Linked DNA regions of Homo sapiens: region 2 is linked to region 1. The links come from fine-mapping of genetic effects on gene expression. A gene starts in region 1. The other region holds a variant in brackets. All regions are shown on one strand. Distances are from middle to middle.

Region 1 (2,921 bases):
GACTTCTCTCTTGGATCACACTCTCAGCTGCCATGTCATTAGAAGAGCCGAGCTGCACTATAGAGACACAAGAGGTGAGAAACTGAGGCCTCCTGCCAACAGCCATGCAAGTGACTCATCTCGGAAGTGGATCTTTTAGCTACAAAAAGCCTTTGGGGCACTTTAGCCTTGGCTAATATTTTAACTGTAACCTCTTGAGAAATGCTGAGCCAGGATGACTCTGGCTAGCTAGACTATTGCCAAATTCCTGACCCACAGAAACTTTGAAATAACAAATGGGATAATTGATGAGGTAACAATAAATAACTAGTACAACGCTGAAAGAGGAGAAGGTATATAGGACTTTTCTCCATCAAAGGACAGAGATTATTGAATTGAACAAGGGAGTAAAGTACAAATAGTCCTGAAATTGATCCAGCCAACTTTTGATCACTAATCTCTCCCTGCAAAGGAAAGATTTAATACTTTTCAAAATTTCAATCAAGTCTTCAGTATATTCAAATTCAACTCTCTAGTATACAGATGCTCCTCAACTTACGATGGGGTTATGTCCTGATAAACCCGTTGTAAACTGAAAATACAGTAAGTCGAAAATGCCTTTAATATATCTAACCTACCAAACATCATAGCTTCACGAGGCCCTCCTTAAATGTGTTCAGAACACTTACATTAGCCTACAGTTGGGAAAAATCACCTAACACAAAGCATATTTTATAATAAAGTGTTGAATAATTTATTGACTACTGTACTGAAAATGAAAAACAGAATGGCTATATGAGTACTCAAAGTACAGTTTCTACTGTGTGTCACTTTTGCACCATCATACAGTCAAAACACTGTTACGCTGGGGCATCCTAAGTCAGCAACCACCTGTGTATATGCTCTTGTGGTTTAACGGCAGCACAGTGCTATGCTTATGAAATCACTTAGAAATTGACATTCTGTTTTAATGTGTAGTATTTCAGTTTTCAAAAAAGAATACACTTTATAATTTACAAAACTATATGGAGTCATAAACTTCATAGATTTATATGTATGCATGCATCTTTGGTTAGGGTTGTGGGTAAATTTGAAAAGCTACGCATTACCCTCAAATTTATATAAACCTCTACGTTTAACAAAGCAATTTCATATAGCTTTCATCTTGGGGCGTCCCCTTACAAAATGGATGCATGCACTTAGGTAGGGCTCACTTAACTATCTAATAATGGAGTTTTTAAATATAGACACTAGAATATATTCTGCTGTTTGTTCCAAAAACCCTCTTCTTCGTTTCTCTTATCCCACCCACGTCCGAATATAGCATGCCAAAAACAGAGCCAAAAACAAGATTGTCTGTGACATATCTGTCCTGTCACAGACAAGGACAGATTAAGAGGACCAGATCAGAAAATGTGTGTATACTAAGTAGCTCAAAGACAAGGGCAAAACTTTAACGCAAAGAAAATACATTCAGAGCTTTCCAAGTCCCAATTTCTTCTGCTTTTACAGTTCAGCCTAGTTAGTTGTCCTCCACGCCCCCCGCCCCACGCGCGTTTGCGTTTTCTTAATAAACCCACAGCAAGACCTAGGGCGGGGGTGAACCACAGCGCATGCGCCGTAGGGAGCGACCTCAACAGCTAGGGTGCTGTTTGGGCGGGGCCTGGGCGGGGCCAGACGCGCGCGAGATTTGAATTTCCTCTGCGTGCGGTCAGTGCCCGCGCAGCGTTGAGTTGCACAGCGGTATTCTCACCAGGCCCTGCAATCGGTGGGCCACAGTGCCGGCCACAGAGATGGTGGAAGGACCAGGCTGTACTCTGAATGGAGAGAAGATTCGCGCGCGGGTGCTCCCGGGCCAGGCGGTGACCGGCGTGCGGGGAAGCGCTCTGCGGAGTCTGCAGGGCCGCGCCTTGCGGCTCGCAGCCTCCACGGTTGTGGTCTCCCCGCAGGTGAGCTACTCCTGTAACAGGCCATGCAGTCAGCAGGGGGGAAATGGAATAAAGACCCCATCAGGGTTCCAGGATTTAAAGTGTCATCTCTTTGCTCTGGCCCAGGTTTCCTGGGGTCCCACCTTTCACAGAGTTTATCGTCACTTTACTGTAGGGAGAAGTCGGTCCTAGCGCGCCTGCGCAGGAGAGGAGGGCTAGCGTTCTGGGCTCACGCTGCCGGAGCAAGATGCCCTAGGGGAATCCAGTGAAGGTGTTTTATCCGAGTCACCTTACTTAACTTCTTTATGATACACACATGGTTTCCCATGTCTACAGCTGCATTTTTTACTATTGATATTATCAAATCTCTGCTACCTCTGATATGTTTTCTTCGTCCCATTTTAAGCTTTTAGCATAAAATTCTACTTTCTTGCTTGGCTAATCTGCAATTGGTAAGTATATCACAACTAGTATATAATTCTAAAACTACACGTAGAAAATTTAGCACTAACTTCTCACTCAACTTCATATTGCCATCTAATTAAGGGGCAATGAAACCCAGTTCTGGTTCCCTTAAGTGAATTTATTTCTTTTTAAAGTAAACTAGCACAGCTTCTTGCCACTCAGGCATTCATTGCAGACGATGTGGTATTCATTTGGCCAGAACTTGTACTAAAAATATTCTGATTAAGGCATCATGTTTTAAAAGCCCTCTAGATGTATGGATGATTGTATTTCATGCCTACATGCAATATTGCACTGTATTTCAATTTCTTCTGCAAAGCTTCTTATAGCCTTTGGTCCTGGAAGAAAAAGTTGCCTGCTATGAAATTAGCATATGCTTACAACTTGAAAGAAATGAGGTTCTAAGTCTAAGAAAATATATTTTCAAACTTGGGAAAAAATAAGTTTTACATCTCCTTCCAATTGCCCTTTTGTTTATTTTGACTTGATATGCCAGTAAGTACTCTGTACCTATTTTTTTTTATTATTGTTATAGTGTTTCTAAAATCG
Region 2 (2,921 bases), 39 kb after region 1:
TAGACTGGGGAGCCTTTGGAGGGTTTTGAACGGGCGTGAAATAACTGACTTAATGTTTGAAAAGATTAATCACTCTGGCGACTGTTGCCAATACTTTTGAGCTGGGAAGCCACTGGGAGAGTTTGAGCAGGAGGGCAGCATGAAGTGACTTGGGTTTTCTGAGGATGATTTGGGCTGCTGTGTGGAATAGAGACGGTCATGGAACCAGAGTGAAGCGGCAGCATCGGGGGCTCTCAACAGTAGTGCAGGTGGTAAATGCTGGTGACGGGGAAGAGAGAGAAGGTGGTGGGAAAAAAAGGTTGAATTTAGGATAATTTTGGAAGTTGAGTTAGGGTTAAGGCCAGAAATTTATATAATTTGGGGGCCCTTATTTATGAAAAACAATAAAAAATTATGACTACAACGTTAGGTCCTAATGTGAATATGTAGAATAAGAAATCACAACAAATTATATTTTTTAAACACCACAAACATCAGAAAAATGAGATATTATTAGTTCACTGCCTGACACAGCTGTGTAATTGTGTTCCTTTATGTTTTTGGCTGCAAACTCCTTGATTGCCTTTTCATATGACCACCAACAATATCATTACATCTTTTATTACGGCTAGATGAGAAAACTTTTAGCTTCACAATTGGCTGTTGATAGTGACACATCTCCAACTTCCTCTATCTTTTCTTTAAGCAGTACTTCTCTGTAAGGAAACCCTAAGAGCAGTGCCTCTCAAACTTTAGTGTGTACCAGCATTTTCTGAAGGGCTTGTGAAAACACAGATTGCCGGGCCCCACCCCTAGAGCTGGGGATTCAGTGGGTCTGAGGAGGGGCCTGAGAATCTGCATGTCTAACACGTTCCCACATGACGCCCATGCTGCTGGCCTGAGGACTTGACTTTGAGAACCCCAGCCCTTTGATCTTCCTCAGGTGCCTCAGGTTCCCCCCCTCTACCAGGTTGTTTCTGAGTTAGGGTGGGTAGTATAGGGGTAGAGTGGCCTGGCAGCCTGGATCATGGTGGCCTGTGAGCTCGGAACGATGCAGTATCTTTTGTTCAGGTCCTTCTCCTCAAGCCTCAGGGCAGAGTCCGCCTGCTCCTTGAGGTCACCAGGGCAATAGTTTCCCTGGGCACTGAACAGATGTGAGGTGATGCTGGCAGCACCCAGGCGCCAGGATTACCGCTGCCTGCAATCCTCTGAGTCCCCAGCATGTGGTCGAGTTATGGCTCCCATTCTCCATGCTGCCCACCCCAGTGTGCAGAGGACACGTCAAGCCATGGAAAGTTAAACTTCTTTTGCTTCATGTAAATTTGCATCTGCAGCAGATCCCACGGGATTTGCTGATGGACTGGAAGTGGGATGTGAGAAAAGGAAGTGTTAAGGATGACTTCTAGGTCTGGGCCTGATGAATTGAGCGATACTGATGCCATTTCCTGACATGAGATAGAATAGTAGAATTGCAGATTGGTGGCTCATGAATTTTTTTTTTTTTTTTTTTTTTTTTTTGACACGGAGTCTCGCTCTGTCACCCAGGCTGGAGTGCAGTGGCGTGATCTGGGCTCACTTCAAGCTCCGCCTCCCGGGTTCACGCCATTCTCCTGCCTCAGCCTCCCGAGTAGCTGGGACTACAGGCACCCGTCACCACACCTGGCTA[A/AT]TTTTTTTTTTTTTTTTTTTTTGTATTTTTAGTAGAGACGGGGTTTCACCGTGTTAGCCAGGATGGTCTCGATCTCCTGACCTTGTGATCCACACGTCTCGGCCTCCCAAAGTGCTGGGATTACAGGCGTGAGCCACCGCGCCCGGCCTCGTGGGTCATGAATTTTGTCTGTATTCATTTCCGCTGGCTGCCATCATAAATTATCATGACCTTGGTAGCTTAAAGCAACAGAAATGCATTCACTCAAACGCTGGATGCTAAAAGCTCAACATCAGTTTCATTGAACCAAAATTAAGGTGTGGGTAGGACTGTGCTCCCTCTGGAGGAACTGGGGGGAATCATATTCCTTTCCTCTTCTCGCTTCCGGTGCTGCCAGCGTTCTTTCATGTGTGGCTACATCACTGCAACCTCTGCCTTTGTGGTCTCCTTGCCTTCTCTTTGGTGTGTATCAAATCTCCCCCTCCCTCTCTCTTATAAAGACACTTGTGATTGGGTTAAGGGACCATCAGCTAATCCAAAATAATCTCTCTACGCCAAGATCCTTAATTACATCTGCAAACCCTCCTTCTTTATAAAGTAACATTTATAGATTCCTGGAATTGTGCCCTATGTCTTTGGGAGGCCATTATTCATCCTACTACAAAACATTAAGTTTGGGATTCTTCTTACACATCCAAGTGGAGATTGGGAAGAATTTATTAATGAGTGATTAAGAAATAGAGCAGTAAAGAAAGGAAAGAATGTTTCCAAAGCCTCCATATGTAACAATAAAATTCTCCTTATGATCAGGGAAACTTTTAGGACAGAAGAAAATGAAAATAGGGAAAAGTTGGAGCACATGGAAAATCTAAAAGTCATTTAAATTGTGTTTGTTTAATTATAGATAAATGCATCATGCTGCCTTTCAAAGTAAGTTAGTAGAGGACAGAGATTAGGTCAAATAAACAAATTCTGTAGAAGATCTGATATTCCATAGGGATAATAAATACTGAGTGGCATTAAAAGTCAAGGGAAGTAAAGATAAAAGAATCCTAATGAGATGTATCTTACTTTCAGATTTTCTTATTCTATTTATTATTTTACCAGACACTCCTGAATTTTAAAACTAGTGTAATTATATGTAAGGAACAAAATGTCACAGGAGACAAGGTTACCTTTGAAAGTCAAAGAACTCATGTTCTGAAATGTAAGATACATAGCCTTTACCTGCAAGAGCTTTGTTCAGTATTAATGTTTGGGATCATGAAGGGAATCCGTGATACTGCCATGGTTGCTT

Direction of the effects. Alleles are on the strand shown, and positions count from the first base shown. SD is a standard deviation of normalised expression in the study named.
For the expression in monocytes of the gene that starts at base 1,693 in region 1, allele A in region 2 goes with a lower level than allele AT (large effect, 1.1 SD a copy in BLUEPRINT).

The links. PIP is the estimated chance that this variant, and not a neighbour inherited with it, causes the effect.
Region 2: its variant is fine-mapped to the expression of NEIL3 in monocytes (BLUEPRINT, PIP 0.95).

What each region holds. Positions count from the first base shown.
Region 1 is chr4:177,308,182-177,311,102 of GRCh38, forward strand. NEIL3 (nei like DNA glycosylase 3) reads left to right here and starts at 1,693. Exons shown (of 10, transcript NM_018248.3): 1 at 1,693-1,928. The coding sequence starts at 1,773. RefSeq lists a silencer at 1,574-1,693 and an enhancer at 1,774-1,863.
Region 2 is chr4:177,347,389-177,350,309 of GRCh38, forward strand. All of the region lies in intron 6 of NEIL3 (nei like DNA glycosylase 3), which reads left to right. The region is part of intron 2 of LOC105377558 (a long non-coding RNA gene); the gene reads right to left. Among named protein-coding and RNA genes, the nearest start is that of NEIL3, 39 kb to the left of the region's middle. The variant A/AT (reference allele first, on the strand shown) is at 1,646.